4 separate regions of the Homo sapiens genome follow, and all the other regions are linked to region 2. Evidence: fine-mapped expression QTL. A gene starts in region 2. Each other region holds a variant in brackets. All regions are shown on one strand. Distances are from middle to middle.

Region 1 (8,084 bases), 390 kb after region 2:
TCCTTAAATAATTCTATGAAAGCCGGGTGCAATGGCTCATACCTATAATCCCAGCACTTTGGGAGGCTGAAGCAGGCAGATCACTTGAGGTCAGGAGTTCAAGACCAGCCTGGCCAACGTGGTGAAACCCCATCTCTACTAAAAATTCAAAAATTAGCTGGGCGTAGTGGCAGGCACCTGTAATCCCAGCTACTCATGAGGCTGAAGCAGGAGAATTGCTTGAACCTGGGAGGCAGAGATTGCAGTAAGCCAAGATTGCACCACTGCACTCCAGCTTGGGCAACACGAGCAAAACTTCGTCAAAAAAAAAAAAAAAAAAAACTCTATGAAGCCAGTATCACTCTAATACCCAAACCAGGAAAAGACATAACAACAACAACAAAAATGCAGACCAATATCCCTGATGAACATAGATGGGAAAATCCTCAACAAAATACTGGCTAACCAAAACCAACAGCATATCGAAAAGATAGCACATCATGATAAAGTGGGTTTTATACTAGGGATGCAGGGATGGTTTAACATATGCAAGTCAATAAATGTGATACATCACATAAACAGAATTAAAAGCAAAAATCATATGATCATCTCAATAGATGCTGAAAAAGCATTTGACAAAATCCAGCATCCCTTTATGATTAAAACCCTAAGCAAAATCAGCATAGAAGGGACATACCTCAAGGTAATAACCATCTATGACAAACCCTCAGGCAACATTATACTGAACAGGGAAAGGTTGAAAGCATTCCCCCTGAGAACTGGAACAAGACAAGGATGCCCATTTTTATCACTGCTATTCAATATAGTACTGGAAATCCTAGCCAGAGCAATCAGACAAGAGAAAGAAATAAAGGGCATCCAAATTGGTAAAGAGGAAGTCAAACCATTGCTGTTTGCCGATGATATGATTGTATATCTAGAAAACCCTAAAGATTCATCCAAAAAGCTCCTAAACCTGATAAATGAATTCAGTAAAGTTTCAGGATATAAAATCAATGTACACAAATAAGTAGCACTGCTATACACCAGCAGTGACCAACCTGAGAATCAAATCAAGAACTCAACCCTTTTAACAACAGCTGTAAAAAATAATATAAAATACGTAGAAATATACCTAACCAAGAATGTGAAAGATCTCTACAAGGAAAACTACAAAATACTGCTGAAATAAGTCATAGATGACACAAACAAATGGGAACACATCTCATGCTCATGGATGGGTAGAATCAATATTGTGAAAATGACCATACAGTCAAAAGCAATCTACAAATTCAGTGCAATTCCTGTCAAAATACCATCATTATTTTTCACAGAACTATAAAAATAAAATCCTAAAATTAATATGGAACCAAAAAAGAGCCCACATAGCCAAAGCGAGACTAAGTGAGAAGAACAAATCTGGAGGCATCACATTACCTGACTTCAAACTATACTACAAGGCTATAGTTACCAAAACAGCATGGTACTGGTATAAAAATAGGCGTGTACATCAATGCAACAGAATAGAGTACCCAGAAATAAAGCCAAATATTTAAAGCCAACTGATCTTCGACAAAGCAAACAAAAACATAAAGTGGAGAAGGACACCCTGTTCAACAAAGGCTGCACCCTAACCACAAATGGTCAAATGGTGCTGGGATTGTTGGCAAGTCACATGTAGAAGAATGAAACTTAATCCTCATGTCTCACCCTATACAAAAATCAACTCAAAATGGATCAAAGACTTGAATCTAAGACCTGAAACCATAAAAATTCTAGAATATAATATTGGAAAAACTCTTCTAGACATTGGCTAAGGTAGAGTTAATGACTAAGAACCCAAAAGCAAATACAACAAAAACAAAAATAAATAGATGAGACCGAATTAAACTAAAAAGCTTCCGCAGAGAGAAAAAAAAATCAGCAGACTTGGCTGGGCATGGTGGCTCACGCCTATAATCTCAGCACTTTGGGAGGCCAAGGTGGGTGGATCACCTAAGGTTAGGAGTTCGAGACCAGCCTGGCCAACATGGCGAAACCCCATCTCTACTAAAAATACAAAAATTATCTGAGCATGGTGGTGCATGCCTGTAATCCCAGCTACTTGAGACGCTGAGGCAGGAGAATCACTTGAACCTGGGAGACAGAGGTTGCAGTTAGCCGAGATCGCATCACTGCACTCCAGCCTGGGCGACAGAGCGAGACCCTGTCTCAAAAATAAAATAAAATAAAATAAAATAAGGCCAGGCATGGTGGCTCATGCCTGTAATCCCAGCACTTTGGGAGGCCAAGGTGGGTGGATCACAAGGTCAGGAGATTGAGACCATCCTGGCTAACATGGTGAAACCCCATCTCTACTAAAAAATACAAAAAATTAGCCGGGTGTGGTGGCAGGCGCCTGTAGTCCCAGCTACTCGGGAGGCTGAGGCAGGAGAATGGCATGAACCCTGGAGGCAGAGCTTGCAGTGAGCTGAGATCACGCCACTGCACTCCAGCCTGAGCGAGAGTGCAAGACTCTGTCTCAAAAAAAATAAACATAAAAATAAAATAAAATAAAAATAATCAGCAGAGTAAACAGAGAACCCCCAGAGTGGGAGAAAATTTTCACAGACTATTCATCCAACAAAGGACTAATACCCAGAATCTACCAGGAACTCAAACAAATCAGCAAAAAAAAAAAATCCCATCAAAAAGTGGGCTAAGGACATGAATACACAATTCTCAAAAGAAGATATACAAATGTCCAACAAACATGAAAAAAATGCTCAACATCACTAATTATCAGGGAAATGCAAATCAAAACCACAATGCAATACCACCTTACTCCTGCAAGAATGGCCATAATTTAAATATCAAAATATAATAGATGTTGATGTGGATGTGGTGAAAAAGGAACACTTTCACACTGCTGGTGGGAATGTAGTACAAACACTATGGAAAACAGTATGGAGAATCCTTTGAGAACTAAAAGTAGAATTACCATTTGATGCAGCAGTCCCACTAATGGGTATCTACCCAAAGGAAAAGAAGTCATTGTATGAAACAGACTTACACACATATGTGCATAGCAATACAATTTGCAATTGCAAAAATAAGGAACCAGCCTAACCCTGATTTCCAGTGGAAATCCTAGGAAGTTATGATGTTAGTTCTGGGCTTGTAAAAGAAAAACAACAGCAAACAAACAAACAAAAAAGAAAAACCTTGGAAGCAAGTAATTTGAGATGGTTTATGTCAGTTTTTGTGATGAAAACTATTTTCTAATGTTTAGAAAGATGTTTCCACAATTTTTTGTTTCTTAACAGAACTAAATATTTAGCTTTTCTGTATCATATAGATGACTCAGACATTTTATGATTAGCTATTACCCAGGTTGACATAACATGACTCTAAGTTATTGAAAAAGATTTTTTAAACAATGTAAAGCTCATTTATAAACTTTTATTTATTCTCTTTTGCAAGTAAACCTTATGGTAAATAATAAAAAACATAAAAAAGTAAATAAAGTTTTATTTATTCTTAGGAAGTATGCTTGAGTAGCTCATTAAACAAAGTTAGCTACTGAAACTGTCTTTGCAGGGCTGAGCAGTGGCTCACGCCTGTAATCCCAGCTCTTTAGGAGGCCCAGGCAGGTGCATTACCTGAGGTCAGGAGTTAGAGACCAGCCTGGCCAACATGGTAAAACTCTTTCTCTACTAAAAATATAAAAAATTAGCCAGGTGTGGTGGTGGGTGCCTGTAATCCCAGCTACTTGGGAGGCTGAGGCAGGAGAACCACTTGAACCCAGGAGGTGGAGGTTGCAGTGAGCTGAGATCACATCATTGCACTCCAGCCTGGGCAACAAGAGCAAGACTCCATCTCAAAAAAAAAAAAAAAAGAAAAGAAAAGAAAAAAAGAAACTGCCTTCGCAAAATTATAACTGAGACAGTGAAAGAAATCTAACTTAACTGACCATCTTGCCTCTAGCATATAAGCTGTCTTTGTTCATTCCATCTTGCCTA[G/A]GGACTAGATTGTCTTTGTAGGACTAACATTTGACACAAGATTAGAAATTATGATTTAGGAGTCATGCAGCTGGAGGCTAAAAGATTATGACCCTCCCTAAATTTCTCTCAAGATCAGTGCTTGAGATATTTTGCAGACCCTGCACTTGATGGATCAGCTGGCTCCACCCAGATTGATAAACTGGCTCATCTGATCTTGTAGCCCCTGCCCATGAACTGACTCACTGCAAGAAGACAGCTTCAACTCCCTATGATTTCATCTCTGACCTGACCAATCAGCACTCCTGGCTCACTGGGTTCTCCCCACCCACTAGGTTGTCCTTAAAAATTCTGCTCCCAAAATGCTCGGGGAGACTGATTTGAGTAATAAAACTCTGGTTTCTGCACAGCTGGCTCTGTGTGAATTACTCCTTCTCTATTGCAATTCCCCTGTCTTGAGAAATCAGCTCTGTCTAGGCAGTGGGCAAGGTGAACCCATTGGGTGCTTACACCATCATCTTCAGTTTTTTCTTTGTAATCATGTTTACATTCCACAAATGTTAGGAACTTAACACTTTAGCCAGAACTCTAAAGTTAAATACACGGGTATTTTGTTAATCAGAGGACACGGTTGTTTTCAGTAAATCAACAGTATTAAACTAGTCTTATTTACCAACAATTTACACAAATCATTTGAACTAAAAGGCATTTGAGTTAGCTTATATTTTTCTCATAAAATATATAATTTAAGTGCTTACTTTTTCTTTAACCCAATTAATTAGAGTTTTCGTGTATTTTGGTAATGAAATATCACATCCACATGGCATATATGAACATATATACATACAGACATACAAACAAAAGCAGAGTCTGTAGCTTGATAAACTTCTTCATTTGTCAGGGGGTTTTTTTGTTTTGGTTTTGGTTTTGGTTTTCTTTTTCTTTTTTTTTTTTTTTGAGATGGAGTCTTGCTCTGTTGCCCAGGCTAGAGTGCAGTGGTGTGATCTAAGCTCACTGCAACACCCACTTCCTGGGTTCAAGCGATTCTCCTGCCTCAGCCTCCCGAGTAGCTGGGATTACAGGCGCCTGCCACTGTGCCTGGCTAATTTTTGTATTTTTAGTAGAGATGGGGTTTTGCCATGTTGGCCAGGGTGGTCTCAAACTCCTAACCTCATGATCCGCCCACCTTGGCCTCCCAAAGTGCTGGGATTACAGGCGTGAGCCACCGCACCCAGAAACCATTTGCCAGTTTTTAAATAGTTTCTCTCCCCTCTTTAGACTATGGAGCCCTAAACAACTGTTAGCAACATAACCCTTAATTTGCACTTCCAAAGACATGACTCTTAAGTGAAAATTTACATCCCAAAGGCACAGCACTTAGATCTAAGCACCATTCTCTGCTGAGATGAAGAAGGATATGGGTAAAGATTCAGTCGAAGTGAGATTGCCAGGAAAAGTATCTTAAACAAAGGCAGGGATTGTTATGTAAACTTTAAACCAATGTCTTCCCCATCTTAAGAGTTTTGTGGGTTTTTTGTTTGTTTTTTTTTAGACAAGGTGTCATTCTGTTACCTGGACTGGGGTGCAATGGTGCAATTTTGGCTCGCTGCAGTCTCCACTTCCCTAAGGCCACAAGATTTGAAGTTAGGATAATACATGTTACACTGTTAACTTTTAGCAAACTTTACTTTTGTTGAAAACCATGTAAGTTTGGGATTTTTAATTATCCTTTGCTATTACTAAGACCTCTTTAGTCCAAATCAACTTGGAATTAGTATAGATGGTTCCTTCCTGGTTCTGTAAGTACTTTAAGGCTTGGCTGAGTGCAGAGCTCACACGTTTGAGCAGACTGATTATTAGGCAATTTTCCTAACTCTATTTCTACGAGAGTTTCCCTATCAATTACTGAATACTCGTTGTGTCTTTTTCCCTCAATCAGCCAGGAGAAACCATCCATCATCCTGTCCTGAAGGGAGTTCCTCCTAGGTCTGGTCGGACCTTTGTATGGTAGTTAATTAAGATTTAGATCCCCTGTTAGGAAACCTGCAGGGTTAAGGGAATTATCAGTGGTTAATGTTAAATCATATTTTTCTAACAGAATGGCCTCATATGTTAATATTCTTAAGTCAGTAAGCTGCCTTTTTGCTTTTTTGACTTAGGATAGTTCTGACCTGGTGAGGTGTGCTCACAATGAGGTTTCCTCTAAAAGTTATTTTTGTACTTTCTTCAGTTAGCAAAGCAGTTGCTGCTACAGATTGAATGCATTTGGGCCATCCCCGGGTTACTGGGTTAAGGATTTTTGATAGGAAGGCTACTGGTTGTCAGTGGCCTCCGTGCTTTTGGGATATGCCCTTGTTTACACTGACAACAAGATGGAATAGCTACTTGAGGGTAAATCTAGGACAGGGGCAGTTACTAATAGATGTTTTAACCTTTCCACCTGTTGGATTTCTGGTAATTGCCAAATGAGGAGGGGGTTTTGCCCATCTTGCGTGAGCTTTTTGTATAAGGGTTTTGTTTTTAGGGCATAAGAGGCTATCCATAGATGACAGTATCTGACTTATCTTAAAGTTTTCTAAGTTCTTGTTTGGTCTCCGGCAGAGGCAAGGATATGATACTTTCAGTCCATTCAAGCTCAATTTGCCATTTACCTTTGCTAATTAAATGACTTGTTCTAATATTTGACTAAATAAATTTGAAGACTTCGTAAACCCTTGAGGTAAGACTGTCTATCTGTATTGCTATTTTCAATCAGAGTGAGGGTCTTCTCACTCAAAGGCAAATAGGTCCTGGCTGTCTTCCGTGAACGGACAAACCCAGAAGGCATCTTTTAAATCTATTACCATAACAACAGGGTGGGTAGTTTGGACTTGATTAATAGCTCTAAGGTCTTGCACTAACTGGTGTGACCCGTCTGGCTTCTTTACAGGCAGTATTGGAGTTTTATAGGGTCACGGAGAAGACTTTCAATTATAGGTTTTACATTTACCCTGGCTTTTAAAGGAATAGGGTACATTGCTTTCTCTTTACTACTTCTAGCTCTCTCTCTCTCTCTCTCTCTCTCTCTGACTCTCTGTCTCTTTCTCTCTCTGACTCTCTTAAGTTTTTTTTTTTTTATCCTTCTAATATTTTAACATTAGTCCTGGGGGATTATTGGGGGAATATTATTGTTGCTAGCTTTATTTCTTTTATCCTGTACCTTACTTGGGGTATTTCCCATTTTTGGGGTGAGGCTCAATTTCCCTTACCAGAAATATCTCACCTTTTGGAGGGAGGCTCAATTTCCCTTACTGGCAATGTCTCACCTTTTGGGGTGAGGCTCAATTTCCCTCACTGGAAATGTCTTGCCTTTTAGGGTGAGGCTCAATTTCCCCTACTGGAAATGTCTCACCTTTTGGGGTGAGGCTCAATTTCCCTCACTGGAAATGTCTCACCTTTTGGGGCGAGGCTCGATTTCCCTTACCGGAAATATCTTGCCTCTTTTTAATCCCCAAGATACCCCGACCAAGGAATACTTCACTGCCCCCTGTGGTTTTTCTTTCCTTAGTCCCGGCTAAGGAATGCTTTACCACCCCTACGGCTTCTTTTTCCTTGGTATGTCCCAACCAAGGAATGTTTCACTGCCCCTGCAGTTTTTCTTTCCTTAGTCCCTACCACCAAAGGAATACTTTACCAGCTCCTCCGCTGTTTCCTTCTTTGGCTTGTGCGTGATGTTGTCTGGTCCACGTGGTATGTAAGGATCCTTTACCCCAGGTCACCGGCCAGTTTCTTTCCACATTGCTGAGAGTCTGGGTTTATTCATCACACCAGGTAGGTCTCGGTTCCTCACCCCTGAGGCTGCCGAAATGAGGCGGCGGGGCACCTCCTTACAAGAGAGGACTGGAGACCGCCCAGAGGAGAGTGGGTCCCTGCATGGGCCACCAAACTGTTAGAAATGCAAAATGCTTGTTCCCTGGTGCTGCAAAGAAATAGCACTCAAACATACATTTAATTTTCTCAGCAAGGCAATTTTTACTTTCTGCAGAAAGGGTGCTCCTCACAGATGGAACAATGGTGAGATCATACCAGGACAGGGGAGGGGCAGGAGTTCTTATTCCTGACGCTAGTAGCCCCTACTGCTGTGTT
Region 2 (8,084 bases):
CGTGACTCTAGTTTCACTCAATGACCCCCCAAAACACTGATTCAATCAGCCCATCAAGGAGGTAAAAGGGCAAAGTTAGCTAACATCTACAGAAATCCTCTCCATGCCAGAGACAGGCTAGCAGCAAAGGGACCTCTAAGACATTTATTTGGTTTCTATCCACAAGCGATCACTCATAAAGTTTCACTTTTAGAATAAAAATCTAAACAAACATTTTTATTTTTTAATCAACAATTCCATTTACCGGCCACTTCTCATAGCAATACAACTCTGTCCTCCAGGCTCTGTAAACTATGCAAATGAACAAACCACTTCCTTCCCTCCCTGAGTACCCAGGTTGAGACATTCCTCCATCCCTTCTAAAGAGAGGACAACTGGACACTGTTTTCAGGGTCATTCTAATCTGTCCAAAAGGCAAACAGGAAGGAAGGACCTTGGCTTCAAGTCTGTGTTTGTGTGGTTGTTTTTTTTGGGCGGGGGCGGGGGGGACGGAGTTTCACTCTTGTTGTCCAGGCTGGAGTGCAAGTGGCGTGATCTCGGCTCACTACAACCTCCACCTCCCGGGTTCAAGCAATTCTTGTGCCTCAGCTTCCTGAGTAGCTGGGATTATAGGAATGAGCCACCACACCTGGCTAATTTTTGTATTTTTAGTAGAGACAGGGTTCCACCATGTTGGTCAGGCTGGTCACTAACTCCTGACCTCAGGTGATCCACCCTCCTCGGCCTCCCAAAGTGCTGGGATTACAGGTGTGAGCCACCGCGCCCAGCCCAGTCTATTTTCTTATCCAAGTGGGAAATCTTGAAATCCTTGCTCCAAGTTTCTTTTCCTCCACCTCTTAACAAAACTCTCCACATTAAAAAAAAAAAAAAAAAAAAAAAAATGAAGTCATCATCCTGCGACTTAGGGAGGAACTTGTTTCTGGACGTATTTTTTAAGCCAGGAACAGTGGCTCATGCCTGAAATCCCAGTACTTTGGGAGGCTGAGGTGAGAAGACTGCTTGAAGCCAGGGGTTTGAGATCAGCCTGGGCACCATAGTGAGACCCCACCATCTCTAAAAAAAAAAAAAAGGAAAAAGAAAGAAACAAAAAACCCAGCATTTTAAAAATGCCCTTACAAGGGACAAAGAATTCCTTGAGAACATGAATGACCTACAGGCAGGCAAGGCTTGTGTAAGGTCTCTAAATTATGAGCAGCACATAAACAAGTGCCAAATAAGTGCCAGTGCTCTTATCTTGATAACCCTCTTCCCTTCGTGGGTCCCTGACTAGGAATCCAATTAGCTGACCCCACTTGTCTGTATAAACAGAGTCACTGGTACAATCTGTTCCTCGCACATCATAAACAAGCGTCTCTACAACACAAACCCGGCACACACCCCATCAACATCTCATCAATTTTGAGAAGAAAAAGCCTGGCATTGAGCACACACCTGGAAAACCTGCCCTGTGTGGGCCTCCCCCGTCACCATCCACTGCCGAAAAATAAGGGTGCAAGGCCGTCTCGACTTTCCCCCACAGGGCGTCTTCCTTTTGTCAGAGCAGGGCACACTCCCAGCCCGGGTGGTTCTCTAGGAACACTGAGGATTGCATAATTTCATGTTTGCCCAGACCATGTCAAGTTAATAATCCACGGACTGCTGCCTTTAAATTTTTTAAACAGGGGCGGGTGGGCAGAGGAAGTTAAGAACCATCCCTCAACAGTAACTTGTTTCAAGCCTGGCATCTTTATTTGCCAAGGAATAAAAGTCACGAGAACATCAAACAGAAAGGGGGAAGGGAGTAAAGGCCTCTACCCTGGTGAGGTCAGACAGCTTGCAGAAGTTCTGCCAAGTGAGGAGACGACCAAAAATAAAATACAAAAAACGCAAGGAAAAGGACCAGACCCTCCCTCTAGAGTCAGGGGACCAGGGGCATATGCACAAACCGCCACCTTGGCCCTCACTGAGGGCAAAACTCCCAGCTTCCAAGAAGTGAAATAAAAAAGGGCAAGGACTTCTTTATCCATGGTCCCCCGATGACCCCAGAAGCCAATATGGCTTTACAGCACCACCCACTCCCAACGCTCACCCTCCTCCTTTCACCAAATCCTAAAAGGTACCTGAGCTACTCCAGACAAACTTCCATCTCGGTAGCAGATGTCAGAACTGTACCTCCCAGGCAAGGGAGAATTGTTCCCTAACGGGGTGAGGACATTGTAGGTATCTAGGAAGTTTCAAGTACACTCACCTTCAACTCAGGGTCACCTTCAAACTCATTGTTAAGATATGGCAACATACTTAATGGCAGCAAACTAAAACTTAGCCAAAGCTACAACTAAAACTTCAGTACAGTAAAAATGTATTCCATTGTAGCATTTCTTGCAAGTGAATGGACACTTAATCTCTGGGTGATTAACATCTCCTCCTGGGCTTCCCTCTGGTGACATCACCGTGGTCTGCCGGGTGGCTGTCAGCCTTTAAGGCTCTAGACCTTTGCCATCTCCGACTACTTTGGCCCATGAATAAAAACAGCAGATACATCCACTAAACCCAATCATTCCCCCGCCTCCAGGAAAAGGGGATGTCTTCAGGGAGGACAAATACCTACCAGCAGCCAGGAATTACAAATAACGTTTTAAGATCTAAGTGGGAACTTCTTGGGGCCAAAACTAGCACTTAAAGGTAGCTCTAGTATGGGGGCTGTCAATGCCTGTGACTCCTTCGGCCTCATCATTCATTTTCCTTGAGCCCATATCAAATGCCCTTTGGGTTAAATTAGGCACATTTCATAAACTGTGACTAAGATGGAAATAAGGACAGGCTAAAGCTGGTTCAGGCGAGTTCACAAAGTGAAATGACTGCCCATTAGTCCCGGCCAGCAGCAGAACAGGGAAAAACAATCCTCCGGGAGCGAGAGCACACGGGGTCCTACTGCTAAGAGGGGCCTGTGGGGAACTGTGCAAAACACGCAGGACTTACTTTCCCCTCTGAAGGGCACTACTCAAATCCCTCCAGCAGAAGAAAGATTTCCATCAAGGGCAATAACCACGCGGGCCTCGGGCGAACACGCGCAAGACCATCGCGGGAAGTGGGGCGGCCTGCCCCTCCGAGCCCGCCGCCCGCCCCTCGTCCAAGGAAGGGCACTGCAGAGGGCGCGAGGCTGGGAGAGGGGCCCCGGCGGAGACGGGCAAAGAGCAGGGGACGAACTTCCCCGGGCCGGGCACCAGGCTGCTGGCAGGAAGTTTCCTCTGCTTCTCCGATACGCGGGGGAGAGGAGGGCCGCAGGGGGCGGACGGGCCAGGGGAGGCGGCGGGCCGGCAGGTGCGCGCCCTGCACCCTCTCTGCCGCCTGGGAGGAGCCCTCGCAGACATAGGGCTCTGCGCGCTCGCCTCCCCAGCGGGCCCCCAACTCCGCACGTCGGGTCCCGCCGGCGTCCATCTGTCAGTCCCTAGGCGGGACGCTGGGCGGGTCTCTCAGTCCCCAGAGGGCGGACAGCGGGGAGGCCAGGGCCCAGCAGGGGCGCCCCCTCTCCGCCCCTGGACGTCCAACGGCGCCCGGCCCGCCGGCCCGGCCCGAGACCCGCGGGGACCGCGCGCGGCCCTTACCGCAGGTAGCTGCCGGAGTTGTGCTGGTTGTAGTGCTCGGGCTGCGTGTGCCAGAAGAGCATGGCTGGAACTCCCAGCGCGCCGACCGGGGCGCGGCAGCAAGCGCAGACGCGGGGCGCGCCGAGGACCCAGCGGCGGCTTCGCGCTCCGAACCCGCGGTGCCGGCCGGCTCGGCGCATTTATCGGCGGCCCAGGGGCGGGACAGCGGTGAGACCCGCCCCCCAGGAAGCGCGGCCCGGAGGGCGGCTCCCCGCGGCAGCCGCACCTGGCTGACTCCCGCGCGTGCCTTTCCGGCGAGCGAGCGCGCCTCCGGGGCGGCCAGACCAGAGGGCTCTAGGGCCGGCCGGGTGCTCTCCCCAAACTCCGATGTGGGGCTCAGGTGACCCTTGCCGCCCCCAACCCGCTCCACACGGCCCCTCTGGCCTCTGCTCCCCACTCTACGCCCAGGGCCGGTCTCCAGAGCGGCTCCGAGATTTCCAGCCTAGGCCCTCTCTGTCGCCTTTCCTCGCTCTTGTTTTTTCATAGCACTTCAGACGCTCTGAAATCATGGGGGTTTTTTTGTTGGTTTTTTTTTTTTTGAGACGGGGTCTCGCTCTGCCACCCAGGCTGGAGTGCAGTGGCGCGATCTCGGGGCTCACTGCAACCTCTCCTCCCAGGTTCAAGCAATTCTCCTACCTCAGCCTCCTGAGTAGCTGGGATTACAAGCGCCCCCCATCACGCCTGACTGATTTTTTTATTGTTAGTAGAGACGGGGTTTCGCCATGTTGGCCAGGCTGGTCTCGAACTCCTGACCTCAGGTGATCCGCCCACCTTGGCCTCCCAAAGTGCTGGCATTACAGGCGTGAGCCCCCGAGTCAGGCCGACATTTTTTTATTTTTTATTTTTACTTGTGTACTGATTGTCTTTCCCATTAGACTGTAAGCTCCAAGAGGACAGGGCCTGGCTCGCTTAACACCCCGTTACCTGCACTGCCTAGAACAGTGCATGGGACATAGTTAAGATAAATGTTTGTTGAGTAAACATAAAAAAAGAAAAAAGGAATGCACCAAAAGAGTAATCAGAGAAGCCTTCCTGGAGGAGGTGACATTGAGCTGAGACCTGATGGATGCAAAGGAAGCATCTCTGTGAACATCACCTAGGGAAAAATAGTTCCAGGCATAGTTCCCTACCCCCTTGGCAACAGTGACTGCCAAAGCCTTGAGGAAGACCTACTTGGCATGGCTGGTCTTGAGGAGAGCTTAGGAGATGAGGTGAGGAGGGCGGGGAAGATCAGAGGGCCTGGCAGGCCAGGACAAGGAGCTAGGATTTTATTCTGTGTTTTAAGCAGAGGAGTCACATGTATGATTTGCCTTTTGGAAAGATCAGTCTGGCAGCAGTGTAGACAGTGGGTCATGGGGTGGAGGGGAGGGCCATTAGGAGGGAGTGGAGTTCCCTGGAGCCCTGACCCCTATCCAGGTGCTATCCGGTTCTCCAGTACATGGCACAGCACCTGGCACAGAGGAGATGGGGATTCTGTCCCTGAGTATTAATCCAGTCAAATGACATCCCTTGGGGACCTGGTCCAGAACTCCCCACTCCCCCACGCATGGATGTGGGTAAAACCCTCCCTCACTCTGCTGTTCCTGCCCTCCTCCCTCCAGCCATAGGTCACAACTGGCAAACCACTTCCTCTGTGCAGCCCTCAAGGACTGCCCCCCACTGTTCTGCCCTGTTAGGAGAATGGGAATATTTCCCCGGCTTCAGGTGGTGCTGTCAGCAGACAGTCCCCCAGCCATCGGCTTCTCCAGGAACTGCCCCTGCTCAGAGAGCAGCCTTGCCCTCTGTCATGTCCCTCCTGGGATAGCCCACATCCCAATGACTATCCCAGCAGAAGTATAAAAGCTTGGCCATCTCTGCCTGACTGGGGACAGTGCTGATGGGGTATTTTAGCCCCAGGACTCCCCATGAAGACAGTCAAAGCTGTCACAAGACCTGTGTCCTGCTCAGGGTCTCCCTCCTGCTTCCTTCCAGTTCCTTGCCCAGGGGTTACTCTTAAGGGAACTTCCAAAGAAACATCCTGAACACCGACCCCCACAACCAACCTCACCCCATCAGGGTCCATGACAAACCCATTGTTTAAATGGGAGACACTCTGGGGTGGTCTGGAAAGAACATGTCCTTTGCTGGACTCGTCCTTGAGTTCTAACAGGAGAGGTCCATGGGTAAGCAGCAGTGACAGTACAGTGTGGTCAGGGACGTAGAGGCTGCCCTGGGAACACAGAGGAGGACTCTGGAGCTCCGAAGAGGCTCCAGCATGAAGTGATATCTCCTGATGGATGGGTGAGTGGAAGTGAAACCAATCTGTGGAGATGGAGGGAGGTTTCCGGCCCAGTAGACGCTCCTGCAAAGGCCTGGAGGAAGGGCAGTCAATATTATTAGATGGTTCAGACCTGGGTTTACTACTTAGCTCCATCTGAATCTATGACCTTGGGTGGAGTAAATTGACCTCATGCTGCTTCTCCCATCAAGAGGTGGTGTCTGTTTCCCTCCCCTCCCCCTTCCGCCTGGGCTGACCCTGTGACTTACTTTAACCATAGAATGCAGAGGAAGTAATGCTTTTCCCTTCTGGGCTGGCCCCTAGGCAGCTTCTCTTTTTTTTTTTTTTTTTTTTGAGACGAAGTTTCTTGTTGCCCAGACTGGAGTGCAATGGCAGGATCTCAGCTCACCGCAAGCTCTGCCTCCTGGGTTCAAGCGATATTCCTGCCTCTGCCTCCTGAGTAGCTGGGATTACAGGTGCCTGCCACCACACCCAGCTAATTTTTTATATTTCAATTAGAGACGGGGTTTCACCATGTTGGCCAGGCTGGTCTAGAACTCCTGACCTTCAGGTGATCCACCCACCTCAGCCTCCCAAAGTGCTGGGATTACAAGCATGATAGGCAGCTTCTCTTAACTCTCCCAGAGCTCTGAGCCACCAGGTAGAGTCCAAATGCCCCATTGGAGAGGGAGACCTGGTCAGCCTCCAATCCCTCTGGCCACTCCGCAGAGCCCATCTAAGATGCCCCAGGGGATTGCCTCCAACCACACCTCATAGAACTGAGGCAAGCCCTGCCCACCCAAGCCCTGCCCAAAATGCAGGCTCGAGAGCAAATGGATGGCTGTGGCCTTACGCCACTGAGGTGTGGGCTGGTTTGTTTCATACAAATGGAAAAATGATACGCTGGGCCCTGTGGATCTGGGTTTTGCTATTGGGAATAATAAGGGCTCATTTCATGGTTGTGGTGAAGCTTAGGTTCAGGTGAGTTTAGCTTCTCAGGGATGATGGCTCTCATGACCTAAGTATGACTCTCTGTATTTTGGGTCATTGCCTACTTTCTCTCTCTTTGTAGGTTTTTAACTATGGGAGGGTAGAATTCAGCAATGCCTACAGAGACAGCATTTGAGTCACACTGTGTGAACAAAAATGCATATTTCTGCCCATGACTCTTGGGTGTTACAGGGCCCAATTAGGCCTAGTCTGGACCCCTGGGGCTTCCAGGCTGCTGAGGAGGAGGAGACAGATGTGCAGGAGATGGCCTGCCAGTTCCTCTTTTATTCTGTGAATGTTCACAGTTCCCATGTGGTGGGAACATTGATTTTTACTATGCACCAGACCCAGAGCCATGCACTGTCATCTCCCGACACTGAGAAGAAGAGACATCACCTGACCTTCTGATTGAAGAAACAGGCTTGGGAGGCTGACTGCCACAGCTGGGATTTGAGGCCAGGCCTGTAAATTCAACAACCATACTCCGACTCTCATCCATTCCTGTCTTAAGGCCCGGCATTCCTTTCTTCACCCCACACTGGGCAAAGGTGCTGTGACCAGATGTCCTCTGCTCCCAGGATCAGCCCGGGGTCCCTGCAGAGGCAGCAGAAAGGGGCCCACTGAGTACTCAGGTGTCACCCCCTTAGCAGCCCCACAAGGGATTCCCAGCTGCTCTCGAAAGAGATCACGATGAATACTGGGGATTCACGTCTGAGAAGATGGTTTTGAGGCATGAATAGGAGTTGAAGGATGGCCAACGTAGAGGGCGGAATTGAGCCAGAGGGAAAGCGTGTGCACACATGTTTATCACAGTTTATCTTGGGATCAGCAGCGCTGAACGAGGGAAGCAGTGAGCAGAGGACAGAGTTAAGCTGTGAGGCCTCAGTGGATCCTATATGAGCTCAGGGCCAGGCTGGTGCTCCAAGTTGTCCAGAATTTGGGCAGGGGTTCAAGCCTTTCTATACCACCTTGACCAGTCATGGACAGATGTGGTTGCCCTGGGGAAGGGACATCACTTTGGGCAAAGCAGCTCAGCTGAGTCCTGGAGAGGGACCTGTCAGTGTTATCACCTGCCAAGGCTCCCTGCAGCAGGGGCTTGAGTGCCGCAGCTGGAGAGGGACACTTTGGCTGGACATGACAGCACCCACCACGCTCTCCAAGCTCAGAATCTTTGTTTATGGAATGAAGATGATGATGCCTCCCTGATGGAGCCG
Region 3 (8,084 bases), 100 kb before region 2:
GAGGAAAATGTTTTTTAATATTTTAAAAGAGATACAAAGGATTCAAAGAAAGTAACTGATTGGCAATGAAGATTTAACATATGTAATAAGAGGCTCTCAAGAAGAACATGAGGAATGGAAGACAGCAAACACTAAAATCTGTAATTCAAGAAAATGTTCCTGAAATAAAATATTTTATAACTACATAGTGAAACAGCATTATCACATACCTAGGAAAAGTAAAATATATGGCCAATATCAAGATATATTCTAGTAAAATTATTGGACTTTATGAAAAAATTATTTTAGGCATCTCCACTAAAAGTTCAAATTGCTTAACTTGTCTACAGGGACATAAAGTAGAATAGTGGTTACCAGGGACTGGGAGTGGGAAATGGGGAGTGACCACTCAATGGGTACAGAGTTTTTTCTTGTAGTATGATGAAAATGTTCTTGAACATGATGATGGTCGTACATCACTGTGAATGTATTAAATACCACTGAATTGTACCCTTTACATAGTTAAAATGATGAATTTTGTGTTGTGTATATTTTGCCATAAAAAAGCAAGACCCAACTATAGCCTGTTGACCAGAATTGCACTCTAAATATAAAGACACAAATAAGTCAGAAGCAAAAGGATGAAAGAAGATATACCATGCTAACACAATCAAAAGAATACTAGAATGATCTATGAATATCAGAAAAAAATGGATTTCAAAGCAAATCATATTACTAAGGATGAAGAAGGCCATTATTTAAATGATAAAGGGCCCACTACTTCCAGATTACATTATCATTTTAAATATGCACCTAATAACAGAGCTTGAAAAAAACATAAATGAAAAACTGGTAGAACTTAAAGAATAGACCAATTCACAATTATCATTAGATATTTCAATATCTCTCTCTCAATAATTCATAGAACAAGTAGACAGGAAATCAGTAACTATACAGTGACTTGAACAACACTAGCAACTACACTAATTGAACGTTCCACCCAACAATGGCAACAAGAAAATATAATTTTTTCAAGTCCCCAAGAATCATTTACCAAAACAGACAATACTGTAATCCATAAAAGAAGTATCAATACATTTAAAAGTTTTCAAATCACACAAGGTATGTTTTCTGATCATAATGATATTAAATTAGGAATCTGTAATAGAAAATTTTCTGGAAAATACTCAAACATTTGGAAACCAAACAACACACTTCTAAATAACTCATGGGAAAGGGAGAGACCACAGATCAAATTAGGAAGTATTTTTAACTGAATGAAAGCATAGAGTATTAAAATTTGTGGGATGCGGCTAAAGTAAATAAAGTATATTCCCTTCACCTTGCCCACAGGGAGACTGAGTGATTTTATCACACATGCTAGTGAAGTTCAGCTATGCTTTGTCTTTTGTGTTTCTTTGCTTGCCAAAATACTTAAAGCCTCACCTGAGAAAGACAGGCTGGCAGAGGAAATTAAGAAGGAATGTCAGAGAATTCCTTCTTAGCTATTTCTCTTTTCTCTTCATCTAGGTATAAACCTGGACATCAGAACAGAAAAATTACCAGAACAAAGGCAAGGCCATAAATCAGGGGTGAACAAGTAGAAGAAATAAGTGGATGAGTAAGAGAATGAATGAACAATGAGTCTGGGCTGGGCTATGATCCCAACACTTTGGGAGGCCGAGGAGGGAGGATTGCTTGAGGCCAGGAGTTTGAGACTAGCCTGGGCAACACAGCAAAAGTGGCTCTACATAAATCTTAAAAGATAAAAGAAAAGAAAAAAGGGGGAAAAATTAGTCTGAACACTGCAAAATTGCCCCTAGGCCAGGTACATGGTGATGTTGGCTGTATCCTGGCGTAGTGACAATTTCTGTTGCTGTAGACATCCCAGGAAATTTTCTCCTCCTCTGCTCTTCAGGAAGTTTGACCACTCCACCACACGTGGGGACATTTCCAATGTCAAAAATTATAACCAACCATAAAACCTTTTTTAATCCAAGCAACAACCATCTCTGTTGTCTAAACATGCCAAGAGGGAAAACGATTTTGCCCAGGGACCATGGCTGTAAAACCCAGGGCCACACCCAGCTCTACCCAGTTCTGTTGCCTGCCCCAGCTCCCATGAAGTCCTTCAGCCTCCCCTGAACTAAGGCTTTGCAAGAGTGACTCAGATTCCCATCACTTGCCTCAAACCATCAGTGCTGAAAGATTGAAGTCCTCACCCTTGAACCCAACTGTGCCAAACTGCAAGAAATTATTTACCTACCCACTGCTGGGGAAATCCAAAAACAGCACGTTTCCTCACCTGCCATGTGCCACGTGCCGATGCTTTCTTTTTGCCCCAAACAAATGGGTGGAAGTCCAAACATAAGGAACAGCCATCTTCTGAATTAAGTAACTCAAGCTCCAAAGGGGTGTCCACCGCTGCAGCTCCATCTGACCCCTACACTGCCTCTGGTCACACCTTACACTCTGCAAGGCCTCCTACCTGTCTCTGAGTGTCCCCAGGATGCACAAGGCTTAACAATCCTGGACTCTGGCAGGCACCTGTTCCCCAACTCTGCCTCGTTTCTTAAAGATTTATTTCATATCTTCTTTACTTTTGCGGGTGTTTGAACATGTCCATTTAAAAGTGTGGTTTTTTAAAATTTCAGTCTAAGCACCTCCTCTTCCAGGAAGGCTTCCTGGACTTTCCTGGCCAATTCAGGTATTCCCTCCTCTGGGTTTCCTGAACAAGGAGTTTGTCTCTATCAAGGTAGCACAAAGCAGTGGTTAGGGCAATGGATTTGGGGGTCAGACACATCTGGGTTCAAACCTTGGCTCCACTATTTACTTGCTATTTGAACTTGGGCAGGCCCCTAAGCCTCAAATTCTACTTTTATACAATCAGGTTGATAATAACACCTACCTTCGAAGAGCTTTGTGACAATTCAATGAGAGAAGACATTTAGAGCACTTGTATGATACCTGGCTTAAGGGATAGGCTGAACAACAGAGTATATGCATTCCTAAATAATTATTTAAACACAGATGACTCTGTAATGACAGTAAATACCTACCTGTCTCCCCATTGTACCACGGGCTCAATTTTATCCCCAACTCCTGCCAGAGGCTGGGAACATACAAGGGAACTGAATTTCTACAGAATCTTCCTCCTCCAACAAGCCATCCCGTCAGCAAACATCCTTTTTGGAAAGTCCAGGCAGCATGAAACCTACTGACCCTGCAGAATTAGAATCTAATTAGTAAATATGTATTAAGTAACTGTATTAAGTAACTACAACGTACTAGGTGCTGTGAGGGTACAAAGATGAAAATACAAAGTCTTGTTCCTCAAAGAGCTCGTGTTTTGTTTCAGGAGAGGCAATATAAGCCTTTGGAAACTTCCATCAACAACTAAGATTTAAATAGCAAAGATGGCGAAGTGCAAATCTAACAATAAGAAAAATAGAATTAATTACCAGGCACCCTGCCTCTGCCCACCATAGGCCCTCAGACCCCCATCCTGGAGCCTCACCCCTGCCCCCATCCCAGTCCTCATTCCCAGACCAGTCCCAGCATGAGAGCTGGTTTACGAGCAGCCTAAATTCTGTTCTCTCTTCCCCACCAACCCCACCACCATCACAATACTCATGTCTACTTTCTTAAGTCAAGATCCTAGGAAGTAGGTGCCCATTTTATAGATGAGAAAACCAAGGCTCATGGAGAGTAAATAACTACTCAGAGCCCCAGTTTAGTAAATGATAGAACCTGGATCCTATCGCAGATGTGTTTGGCAGCCGAGTCCAAGCATCCCTCACCAGATGGCCTGCACCAGGAGGCACTTACTGGGTGATACACCACAGTGTAAGGCAGCATTTCTGCCCCCAGGGGGTGAAGTCCAGTGGGGAAGATTATTTGCTCACCTGGAACAGCTGGTGTTATGCAAAGGCAAACGTGCATGTTGGGTGTGCAAGCAACAGAAACCCAACGCTGGTGACTGAGGAGCTGAGAATTGACAGGAAGGTGGGAGAACGGGCTTAGGAAGTGGGCAGCCACCAAGGGAGGCCCAGGGGCAAAAGCTTGGCCA[T/C]GGTCCCACCTGGAGGCCTGTGGGGAAGGCCCACCAGAAGCTCATGCTCCCGCCGTAGAGGGACACCAGGGCCACTGCTGCCACCTGTGGACACTGCTGCCACCTGTGGACACTGCCACAGGAAATGGCATCTCATTTTCCCTCCACTTAATGTCACCCACCTAAGTCTGAGTCCTGGATGGAAGTGTCCTTTTAGCCACATCTGGGTCCATTTGCCCAGGAACAAGGTGAGAGAATGCCTGCCCCTTCAGCTTCCACAGTGGGTGGCTTATCTCCTGCCAATACTCACATCATAGGGCCTTATTCTCAAATAAGAAGGGGGCAAACATACTGGGTAGCCCCCTCTCCATCCAATAGCAAATGTCCCCTGCCATGATTAAGAGCTAAAAAGAATGGAATAGGTGACATGGGATCTAGAAGCTTGGAGGAGGGGCCACAAGGAGGACTTGAAGAATTTAAGAGAGGTCCATGGAAGAGGTGGGTGTGCTGACTTTGGCCTTTAAGCACAGAGAGGATGTGGCCCCGGCTCTGTCCACGATGCTTGGCCTGACCTGGTCAGGCACTGTGCAAGGGGTCCTCTGAGCTCATTCAGTGCCTGGACCATGGCAGCCACATTATAATTCTCACGGCCATGGCACCGTGCTAAGACCCAGGCATGCAGCTGCAACTTTCCCAACAGTCCTGCAGGCTAACTTCTCTGACCCATAGCTGAGAGAGGTGATAGGCCTTGATGGAAAAGGCCAGCGCGTGAGCCCAGGCCTGTCCGACTGGGAAGCCCACGCTCCTTGCCCTAAGCTGGATGCCTCCCGTTGCAATTAGATAAGGAGCCGTAACACTGTGTGTTTTACTCCTGCTGGCTGCTTTTCCCAGGAATCTTTGTAACCTTCAGGCCAACCCTATGAGATAGCGAGAGCTGCAGATGTTCACCCCTCTTGAGTAGTCGAGGAACCCAAGGCCAAGGTCACCCAGCTTTCAGGGACTGGAGTCCACATAGGCCTGGTGCCTGCTCTTCGCCCGGATCCAGCCAGGCAGCTGTCTTCAACTCATGACCCTGCAGCGGGAGGTTGTGGGGTGGAGCAATTTGAGGAACAGATCCCATTAAGCTGTGTCCATCCACATGATGTAAACCCACACCTAGCCATCCCTTGGAACACAGTGGCCAAAAGTGCAGAGGGAACATTTGTCTAGGAGAACAATGGGTATTGATTCCTCTGGCAGCTGCAGCTGGCAGGCTCTGTAGGTGGTTTGGTCTGGGGTTTGGGGTGGTGTTTATTTGGATGCCGTAGCCTGGTTACTCATCATTCTTGCTCTCCCTGGGCCCCTGGGCTGTCTGAGGACTCAGTGGGAACAGTTCAACAGCCCAGGGCATGTGCTGTGTCACTGTCCCCTGCTCTTCCTGAGAGTGACTGGCACTATGTCCTGGCTTGGGCTGGGCTATCCTGGGATGGGGGCCTGGACACTCTGGGCTTGGACTGGCAGCCCTGCAGCCAACCTTCTTTATATGGGGCACACATGCTCCTGAGAACTTGCTAGACAGGACCGTGTCCGTGCTCCATTTCCTGGCCACCTGCACATCAGTCCAAATACTGTTTCTCCAACACACACACACACACATAGGCAGACAGGCCGCTGCCTACCTCTCACCACCACAGTCACTTCAGTGGCCTGGGAGGAAGGTGACCTCGAGCAGGTCCTGGTTCAGACACCAGTGCATGGCCTGTCAGAGCCTCTCAGGCCTCAGTGCCCCCAGCTGCAAGATGCGGCTCCACAGCAAGCCCTCTGTGCCTCACCTGCATCCTGCTCCAGGCGCCTCTGTCTGCAGACAGCTCTGTGCGCGTGCCCGTGGAGCACGCCCTGCCTGGGCACCACACATCACCACCAGAGAGGCAGGAGGCAGGAGCACCGGGACAAAGTCTCCTCCCACCTCCCCCAGGATGAGTTTGTGCAGCTTCTGGGAACTGGGGCCCAGGGCTCTCCACCAGTGCTATCTGCCATCAGTCCTCCTTTCTCCAGCTTCACTCTCCTGTCCATCGCTCCATCCCCCGGGGTCACACGCCCTTAAGTTTCCATACAGAAGCCAAAAGCCTCAGGCTCCCTGAATTTTGGGTGAGCCCAGGTAAAGACAATGGATGTGAGAACTTCTCAGGCCTCTATTCTGTGACATATGAAGGTATGAAGGGCATTTATTTATTTATTTATTTATTTATTTATTTATTTATTTAGAGATAGAGTCTCTGTCACCCAGCCTGGTGTGCAGTGGCGTGATCTCAGCTCACTGCAACCTCTGCCTCCTGGGTTCAAGCAATTCTCCTGCCTCAGCCTCCCAAGTAGCTAGGACTATGGGTGTGTGCCACCACACCAGACTAATTTTTGTATTTTTAGTAGAGAAGGGTTTTCACCATGTTGGCCAGGCTGGTCTCAAGCTCCTGGTCTCAAGTGATCTGTCTGCCTCGGCCTCCCAAGGTGCTGGAACTACAGGGGTGAGCCACTGTGCCTGGCAATACGAAGGACATTCTTAAAAAAAAAAAAATTGAAGTCCTGGGCCATTTTCATCTCACACCCAGCTGGCATCTCTGCCTCCTTTACTCCTTGGATAACTAACCCTTAATTCCGTCCTCTGTAAAATGAGGCTGACCCCTTGAGGAACTTCTCCAAGGATTGAATGGAGTAAGTCCATAATGTGCTCTGCACAAGGCCTGGTACCCAGAAGGTGCTCAATAATTTTAACAACCAGCACAGAGGCCTGAATGGGGTGCGGGGGGCAGTGGCTGGAATCAGAACACCTGGCAGTTTGCAGCTGTCCCTCAAGAGGCGCTGGCATCCCGGCTGGCGATGGCACTGGATGGAGCCACATTTACCCAGAATCTGTCTGTCCTCCACGAGCCCCGAGATCCAGCCTTTGCAGGCTGGGTGATGCACACCCTGGGTCCTGAGCCCAGAATTGGGGCCAAGATTCCGGGAGGCGCTCAAGATCAACAAGCTTCGGGTTTCCTGGTTGAGGTCCTGCACGTACAACATGTTCCCTCTTTCCAGAAGTGGCGAGGGTGCAGCCCAGAGGACCGCCCTCGAGCTTCTCTGACACCCTGACTGCCCCCAACCCCGAGCCCTCTGCCCTCAATTTCCCCCTGAGCTGCCTCATCCCATCCACCTGAACAAACGCATGTGGCTCAGAGGCACTCATCGATGCAGCAGGTTTCACCTTAGCCTGAAGATCTGCGGCGCCTCCGCCCCACACCCAGGGCTGGCATTTCATTCTGGGTGTCACATGGCCCCCAGGGCCTTTATGACTGCAGGGCCACTGACAGCATCTTCATTCATCTCCAGCTGCTCTGGGGGCCCAGGCAGGGCGGGAATCCATAGTAGGGTGAGAGGCTGGCCACAGCCTGCTCCCCTGCCATGCACTAGCACTGTCCCTGGCCCTCTGGCTGAAGCTGCAGGTTGCCCAACACAACCCTCTAGAGCCATTGACCCATGCGGGTCCCTGAGTCAGCTATAAATTCTGCTCAGCCCACACATGCGGCTCCCCAGGATGCCCTCCCCCACCTCCCTCCTTGGCTGCCCAGGACTTCAGAGGCCACACATCTGTGGGGGACTTTGGAGTCAGAGCTGTGTCGATCACATCCTCAGGGCATGCTTGTCCTGCTGCCTGGCCTCCCACCACAATCCTAGACCCAAGCTCGCCCACCCCTACAAGTCTCCAGGATGATGGGTGCACAACACAACTTGTATCAGGCTGATCCTTTGATCAGATTCCTTCCGTGGCTCCCCAGGCTTTCAGGATGGAGTCCTCCAGCCTCTTGCCTGCCTGGCAGCCCAGCCTCACCAGCCACCTTGCCATCCCCATGCCCGCTCTATCTGTTTCCCAAAGGCTGTCCCACACTCTCGCCATGGGCCTTGGCACATTCTGTTTCTACTCACTGGGATGCTCTTCTCTTCTTTGATAAATGATCACCTACTCATCTTTCAAGACTCGGCTTCAACCTTAGAAAAACTCGCATGATAAAGATGCCTCCAGGTGAGGCTGGGTGTCTTCCTC
Region 4 (8,084 bases), 27 kb after region 2:
CAGAATGGCTTTAAAAAACAGTGTTTCTATGTTACAGCATAAGAGACTCACTTTAGGGTTAAGGATACACATTGGTTAAACGTGAAAGGATAGAAAAGGATATTCCAAGCAAATAGTAATAAACAAAGCAGGGATGACTATGTTAATATCAGACAAAATCGATTTTAATGATAAAAGGGTGAATTCACCAGGAAGACATAACAATTATAAACATATATGCACCACACATCAGAGTTCCTCATTATATGACGTATCAACTGAATTAAAGACAGAAATAGCTCTATGATAATAGTAGAAGACTTTAAAACCCAATTTTCAATAATGGATAGAACAACCAGACAGAAGATCAATAAGAAAATAGGGGATTCGAACAATGCTTTAGACAAGTTTGACCTAAAAGATATATACAGAACATCTACCCAGCAACATCACAATACACAATTTTCTCAAGTGCACAAAGGCCAGGGAGGGTGGCTCACACCTGTAATCCCAGAACTTTGGCAGGCTGAGGTGGGAGGATCACTTGAGCCCAGGAGTTCAAGGCCAGCTTGGGCAACATAGAGAGACCCCATCTCCACAAAAAGAAATTTAAAAAATTAGCCAGGTGTGGTGGTGGCAAATGCCTGTAGTCCCAGCTACCTAGAAGGCTAAAGAGGAAGAATTACTTAACCCCGGGAGGTCAAGGTTACAGCGAGCCATGATCATGCCACTGCATTTCAGCCTGGGCAACAGAGCAAGATCCTTTCTCAAAAAAAAAGAAATAGAGAGAGAGAGAGAGAAAGAGAGAGAGAGAGGAAGGCAGGAAAGAAGGAAGGAGGGAGGGAGGCAAAGAGGGAGGGAGGAAAGGAAGGAAGGAAAGGAGGGAGGGAGGGGGGGTAAGAGGAAAGGAAAGGAAAGAGAGCAAGAAAGAGAAGAAAGAAAGAAAAGAGAGAAAGAAAGAAACAAAGAAAGAAATAAAGGAAAAAAGAAAGAAAGGAAGGAAAGAAGGAAGGAAGGAAAGAAAGAAAGAGAGAGGAAGAAAGAGAGAGAGAGAAAGAAAGAAAGAAAAAAAAGAAAGAAAGAGAAAGAAAGACAGAAAGAAAATTATCCAGAAGAGATCATATGTTAGGGCACAAAATAAGTCTTAATACATTTTAGAAGATTAAAATTATGCATAGTGTCTTTTCTGATCACATTGGAATGAAACTAGAAACCAATAGCAGGAGGAAAATTTGAAAATCCACAAATATGTGGAAATTAAACAACACACTCTTAAACAACCAATGGGTCAAAGAAGAAATCACAAGGGAAAATAGAAAATATCTTTAGACAAATTAAAATGAAAACAGGTTTCTGCTTTTTTGGAGGGCAGTGATCTAATCTGCAGACACCATATCCCCTCTTCCACTTCCTGCTGCAGCCAATAAAGGCCGTTGCTACCATAAAAAAAAACAAAACAAAACAACAACAACAGGTTTCCTCTTTCACCAAGGACCCACCAAGATGAGTCATGTTCACACCAAAGCCGTGAATAAGGTGGCCTGGGTCATCACAGAAAAGCACTACATGAGCCTGGGCAACAACTTCCACATGAACGTGTGTGTGTGTGTGTGTGTGTGTGTGTGTGGAGATTGCTATTATCTCCAGTAGGAAGTCCTGCAACAAGATAGCAGGCTATGTCACACATCTGATGCAGAGGATTCAGAGGGTCCCAGTAAGAAATATCTCCATCACATTTTAGGAGGAGGAGAGAAAAAGGAGAGATAATTCTGTTCCTGAGGTCTCAGTCCTGGATTAGGAGGTCACTGAAGTAAATTCTCACACTGGGGAAATGCTAAAGCTTTTGGACATTGGCAGTCTATCCAACCTGCAGGTCACTCAGCCTGAAGTTGGGATGAATTTTAAAATGCCACGTGGAACTGTTTTGACTCTTTCTGCAATGTTATAATATTTTCAGTAAGCCTGAGACAACAGCAAAAAATAAAAAATAAAAACACAAACTAATACTTATGGGATGCAGTATAAAGAGCGCTAAGATAATTCATAGCTGTAAACACGTTAAAAAAGAAGAAAGATTTGAAATCAACAACCTAATGTTACGCCTTAAGGAACTAGAAAAATATCCCAAACCTAGCAGAAGGATAGAAAGGATAACGATTAAAGCAAAGATAAATAAAATAGAGAATAGAAAAACAATACAGAAAATCAACAAAACCAAGAGCTGGCTCTTTGAAAAGATCAACAAAATTGAAAACAAACCTTTAACTAAGTAGACTTAAGAAAAAAAGAGAAATGTAAAATAACTAATATCAGAATGAAAGAAGGGCCATTCAACTTTACAGAAAAAAAATTATAAGAGAGTACTAGAGGGCTAGGCACCGTGGCTCACCCCTATAATCCCAGCAGTTTGAGAAGCTGAGGGGGTTGGATCATTTGAGGTCAGGAGTTCAAGACTAGCCTGGACAAATAGTGAAACCCCGTCTCTACTAAAAATACAAAGATTAGCCCGGTGTGGTGGTGTGCACCTGTAATCCCAGCTATTCGGGAAATTAAGGCAGGAGAATCGCTTGATCCTGGGAGGCGGAGGTTGCAGTGAGCCAAGATCGCACCACTGTACTCCAGTCTGGGCGACAGAGTGAGACCCTGTCTCAAAAAAAAAAAAAAAAAGAGTACTAGAATAACTGCATGCCAAAAATATTACATAACCCAGATGAAGTGGACAAACTCATAGAAACACACAACATACCAAGAGTTGATGAAGACACAGAAACTCTGAAAAGACCTATCAGTAGGAGGGAGATTGGATTCAGAACCAAAAACCCCTCAACAAAGAAAAGCCTAGGACCAGATAGCTTCACTGGTGAATTCTACCAGACATTTAAAGAAGAACTAACACCACTTCTTCTCAAACTCTTACAAAAAATTGAAGAGAAAGGAACATTTTCAAACTCATTCTGTAAGGCCAACATTACCATGACATCAAAGACACTGCAAGAAAATAAAACTTCAGACAAATATTGCTTATCAATATTGATCCAAAATTCCTCAACAAAATTCTGGTACACCAAATTCAACAGCATATTAAAGGAACACTATGACTAAATGGGATTTACTTCTGGAATAAAAAACTCCAAGGATGGTTTAACATATGAAAATGGATTAATGTAATACAACATAGTAACAGAATGAGAAAAAAAATGACCATTTCAATTGATGCAGAAAAACCACGTGACAAAATTCAATAACCTTTCATGACAAAAACAATCAACAAACTAGAAATAGAAGAAAAGTACCTCAACATATTAAAAGCCAGATATGAAAAATCCAAAGCTAACTTAACCTGAATGGCCAAAGACTGAAAGCTTTTCTTCTAAGATCAGAAAGAAGACAAAGATGCCTGGTTTCACCACTTCTGTTGGACATAGTACTGGAAGAGTCCTAACCAGAGAAACTGGGCAAGAAAAAGAAGTAAAAGGCATAAAAATTGGAAAGGAAGAAGGGAAATTATCTCTGTTTGCAGACAATATAATCTTACATGTAGAAAACCCTAAAGATTACACACATACACAAACTACTAAATGCATTCAACAAAGTAGCAGGATACAGAATCAACAGGCAAAAATCAGTTAATTTCTATACACTAACAATGAACAATACAAAAATGAAATTAAGCGAACAATTCCATTTATAACAGTATCACAAAGAATAAAATCCTTAGGGATCAACTTAACCAAGGAGGCAAAGAACTTATACTGAAAACTACGAAATGTTGCTGAAGGAAATTAAAGAAGACACAAATAAGTGGAATGACATTCCATGTTCATGGACTGGAAGTCTTAACACCGTTCAGATGCCAATGTTACTTAAAAGTGATCTACAGACTCAAGGCAATCCACACTGAAATCCCTACATTGTATTTTGCAGAAATAGAAAATTCCTGGGGCTGTGTGTGGTGGCTCACGCCTGTAATCCCAGCACTTTGGGAAGCCGAGGCAGGCAGATCACCTGAGGTCAGGAGTTCAAGACCAGCCTGGCTGACATGACAAAACCCCATCTCTACTAAAAATACAAAAGTTAGCCAGGTGTGGTAGTGTGCACCTGTAATCCCAGCTACCTGGGAAGCTGAGGCAGGAGAGTCATTTGAACCCAGGAGGCGGAGTTTGCAGTGAGCCGAGATTGTGCCACTGCACTCCAGCCTGGGTGACAGAGCAAGACTCTATCTCAAAAAAAAAAAAAAAAAAAATTCATATGGAATCTCATGAGACTCTGAATATTCAAAATAATATTGAAAAAGAACAAATTTGGAGGTG[T/C]CACATTCCCTGAGTTCAAAACTTCCTACAAAGGTACAGTAATCAAAACAGCGTGGTACTGACATAAACATATACACATAGAACAATACAATAGAATAAAGAGCCCACAAATCAGCCCTGAATACATGGCCAAATAATTTCAGACAAGGATGCCAAGACCATTTAATAGGGGAAGGGCAGTACTTTAAACAAATGGTGTTGGGAAAACTGGATATCCAAAAGCAAAAGAATTATGTTGGGTCCTTATCCTACACCATGTGCAAAAATTAACTCAAAATGAATAGAAGACCTAAATGTTAGAGCTAAAACTATAAAACTCTTCTAAAAAATATAGGAGGAACACTTTATGACATTGAATTTGGCAATGACTTCTTAGTAATGATACCAAAAGCACAGGCAACAAAAGGAAAAATACACAAATGGGACTACATAAAAATTTAAAACTTTAGCAGAGAAACAGAAACTACAAAAAAGAATCAATTAAAAATTTTATACTAAAAATCATAACATCGGAAACAAAAATTTACTCGATAGGCTTAACAGCAGATTATAAATGACAGACGTATAAGTGATATTGAAGCTAGATCAAGGGATCTAATCTGAAGGACAGAACAACAACAAAAAATTGAAAATAAAAACACAATCTCAGGGAACTGTAAACAATATTTAAAAACCCTAGTACCCTTGTATTTGGAGTCTTGGAAAAAGAAGAGAAAGAAAATGAGGTGGCAAAAATATTTGAAGACATGATAGCCAACCTTGTCTCAAATTTTGTGGGCACACATTTATAGATTCAAGAAGCTCAGCAAACCCCACACCAAATAAATACCAAAAAATCACAAGGCATATGATTGTCAAATAGGTGAAAATCAAACATAAAGCAAAAGCTTTGGAAATAAAGAAAAATAATACATAATATACAGAAGATCAAGGATAAAAAAATGTGTGTTCCTCTCATCAGTAACAATGAGAGTCAAAGACGGTGGAACAATATCTTTGAAAAAAAACAAGAATTGGCTGGGCGCGGTGGTTCACGCCTGTAATCCCAGCACTTTGGAAGGCCGAGGCAGGTAGGTCACCTGAGGTCGAGAATTCGAGACCAGCCTGACCAACGTGGAGAAACCCTGTCTCTACTAAAAATACAAAATTAGCTGGTCGTGGTGGCGCATGCCTGTAATCCCGGCTATTCAGGAGGCTGAGGCAGGAGAATTGCTTGAACCCAGGAGGCGGAGGTTGTGGTGAGCCGAGATCGCACCATTACACTCCAGCCAGGGCAACAAGAGTGAAACTCCGTCCCACCCCCGCCCCCAAAGAAAGATATTTTCAAATAAATGAAAACAAAGACAATTAATCACTAGTAGACCTGCACTATAATAAATGCAAAAAGATGTTTGTCAGGCTGAAAGGAAATAATACTAGAAAGAATATCTAGGAAGGAATGAAGAGCACCAGAAATCCTAAATATGTGTATCAATATAGCCAGGCGAGGTGGCTCACACCTGTAATCCTAGCACTTTGAGAGGCCAAGGTGGGTAGATCACCTGAGGTCAGGAGTTTGAGATCAGCCTGGCCAAGACAGTGAAATCCCATCTCTACTAAAAACACAAAAATTAGCCAGGCATGGTGGTGGGCACCTGTAATCCCAGCTACTGGAGAGGCTGAGGCAGGAGAACCACTTGAACCCAGGAGGTGGAGATTGCAGTGAGTCTGAGATTGTGCCACTGCACTCTGTCCTAGACAGGACTCCATCTCAAAAAAAAAAAAGTGTATAAATATAAATATACAATTTTCTCTTGTTTGTTTGTTTGTTTGTTTGTTTTTGAGATGGAGTCTTTCTCTGTCACCCAGGCTGGAGTGCAGTGGCGCGATCTCGGCTCACTGCAACCTCCGCCTCCCATGTTCAAGCAATTCTCCTGCCTCAGCCTCCTGAGTAGCTGGGATTATAGGCACACACCACAATACCCGGCTAATTTTTTTGTATTTTTAGTAGAGATAGGGTTTCACCATATTGGCCAGGCTGGTCTTGAACTTCTGACCTCAAGTGATCCTCCCACCTCAGCCTCCCAGAGTGCTAGGATTACAGGTGTGAGCTACCGCACCCAGCTGACTTTTTTTTTTTGAGACAAGCTTTTGCTCTGTCATCCAGGCCAGAGTGCAATAGTGTGATCACAGCTCACTGCAGCCTCCACCACCCAGGCTCAAGAGATCCTCCCATCTCAGCCTCTCAAGTAGCTGGGACTACAGGTGCACCTGTAGGCCCAGTTAATTTTTGTATTTTTTGTAGGGATGAGGTTTTGCCATATTGCCCAGGCTGGTCCTCTTGATGACTTTAAGATGCATTTGATTGTGTAAAGCAAAAATCATGGCATTGCGTATGGGGTTTACAGCATATGTCAAGGTAATACATATGACAATTACTAAAGGATGGGGAGAGTACATGTATCTACATAAGCACAGCCAAGGTTTCTGCATTTTACATGGTGTGGACAATATTACTGATATTTATTTCCAGTGTAATTCCACTGTGGTCAGAGGACATGCCCTGCATGATATCAGTCCTTCTAAAAAACTTATGCAGATTTGTGGCTGGGAGCGGTGGCTCATGCCTATAATCGCAGCACTTTGGCAGGCCAAGGCAGGCGGATAATTTGAGGTCAGGAGTTCAAGACCAGCCCGACCAACATGGTGAAACCCTGTCTCTACTAAGAATACAAAAAAAAAAAAAATAGCTGGGCGTGGTGGCACATGCCTGTAATCTCAGCTACTGGGGGAGACTGAGGCAGGAGAATCACTTGAACCAGGGAGACAGAGGTTGCAGTGAGCCAAGATCATGCCACTGCACTCCAGCCTGGGCAACAGTGAGACTCCGTCTCAAAAAAGAAACAATTATTCAGATTTGTTTTATGGCCTGGAATCTAGTTTATTTCAGTGTAAACATGTACCCCGTTTTCCACCTGATATCAAGAACATGGTAAGGATGTCTGCTTTCCCTAAGCATTGTGCTAGAGGCCCTAGCCAGTGCAAGAAGGCAAGAAAAACGTGGGGAAAAAGGCAGGCCAGGTGAGGTGGCTCAGCCCTAAAATCTCACCACTTTGGGAGGGTGAGGAGGATGGATTGTTTGAGCCCAGCAGTTCAAGACCAGCCTGGGTAACATGGCGAAACCCTGTCTCTACAAAAAGTACAAAAATTAGCGGGGCCTGCTAATGTTCACCTGTATTCCCAGCTATTCTGGAGGCTGAGATGGAAGGATTGCTTGAGCCTGGGAAGTCAAGGCTTCAGTGTGCCACTGCACTCCAGCCTGGGTGACAGAGCAAGAAGAAAAAAAAAAAAGAGACACAGACCAGAAGAATTAAAATTGTCTCTATTCTTAAGAACTCTGCAAAATAATTACAAGAATTTAAAAGATAATTTAGAAAGGTCACACAGTACAATTTAGTGTGCAAATAATTAAAGATTTAAGTTAAAATAATTTCCCTTTATACCATCATACCATCAAAAAGTATACAAGTCTTGGAGGCAAATTTTTTTTTTTTTTTTAGTTGGAGTCTTGCTTTGTCACCTAGGTATCACAATCAAGTCTCACTGAAGCCTCAAATTCCTGAGCTTAAATGATCCTCCCGACTCAGCCTCCCAAGTAGCTGGGACTACAGGCACGTGCCACCACACCTTGCTAATTTTTAAATTTTTCATACAGATGGGGGTCTCACTATGTTGCCTAGGCTGATCTCAAACTCCTGGGCTCAGATAATCCTTTCGCCTCAGTCTCCTAAAGTGTTGAGATTACAAGTGTGAGCC

What was found. PIP is the estimated chance that this variant, and not a neighbour inherited with it, causes the effect.
Region 1: its variant is the best candidate, but not a certain one, in a credible set for the expression of TFCP2L1 in whole blood (TOPMed, PIP 0.56).
Region 3: its variant is the best candidate, but not a certain one, in a credible set for the expression of TFCP2L1 in skeletal muscle (GTEx, PIP 0.56).
Region 4: its variant is the best candidate, but not a certain one, in a credible set for the expression of TFCP2L1 in whole blood (TOPMed, PIP 0.89).

What each region holds. Positions count from the first base shown.
Region 1 is chr2:121,675,022-121,683,105 of GRCh38, forward strand. The region is part of intron 2 of NIFK-AS1 (NIFK antisense RNA 1); the gene reads left to right. Among named protein-coding and RNA genes, the nearest start is that of NIFK-AS1, 29 kb to the left of the region's middle. RefSeq lists an enhancer at 5,037-5,539. The variant G/A (reference allele first, on the strand shown) is at 3,981.
Region 2 is chr2:121,281,464-121,289,547 of GRCh38, forward strand. It overlaps TFCP2L1 (transcription factor CP2 like 1), which reads right to left and starts at 3,739. Exons shown (of 15, transcript NM_014553.3): 1 at 3,585-3,739. The coding sequence starts at 3,646. RefSeq lists a silencer at 3,765-3,904.
Region 3 is chr2:121,180,589-121,188,672 of GRCh38, forward strand. No RefSeq gene overlaps it. Among named protein-coding and RNA genes, the nearest start is that of TFCP2L1, 100 kb to the right of the region's middle. The variant T/C (reference allele first, on the strand shown) is at 4,049.
Region 4 is chr2:121,308,514-121,316,597 of GRCh38, forward strand. It overlaps the pseudogene RPS17P7. Among named protein-coding and RNA genes, the nearest start is that of TFCP2L1, 27 kb to the left of the region's middle. The variant T/C (reference allele first, on the strand shown) is at 4,290.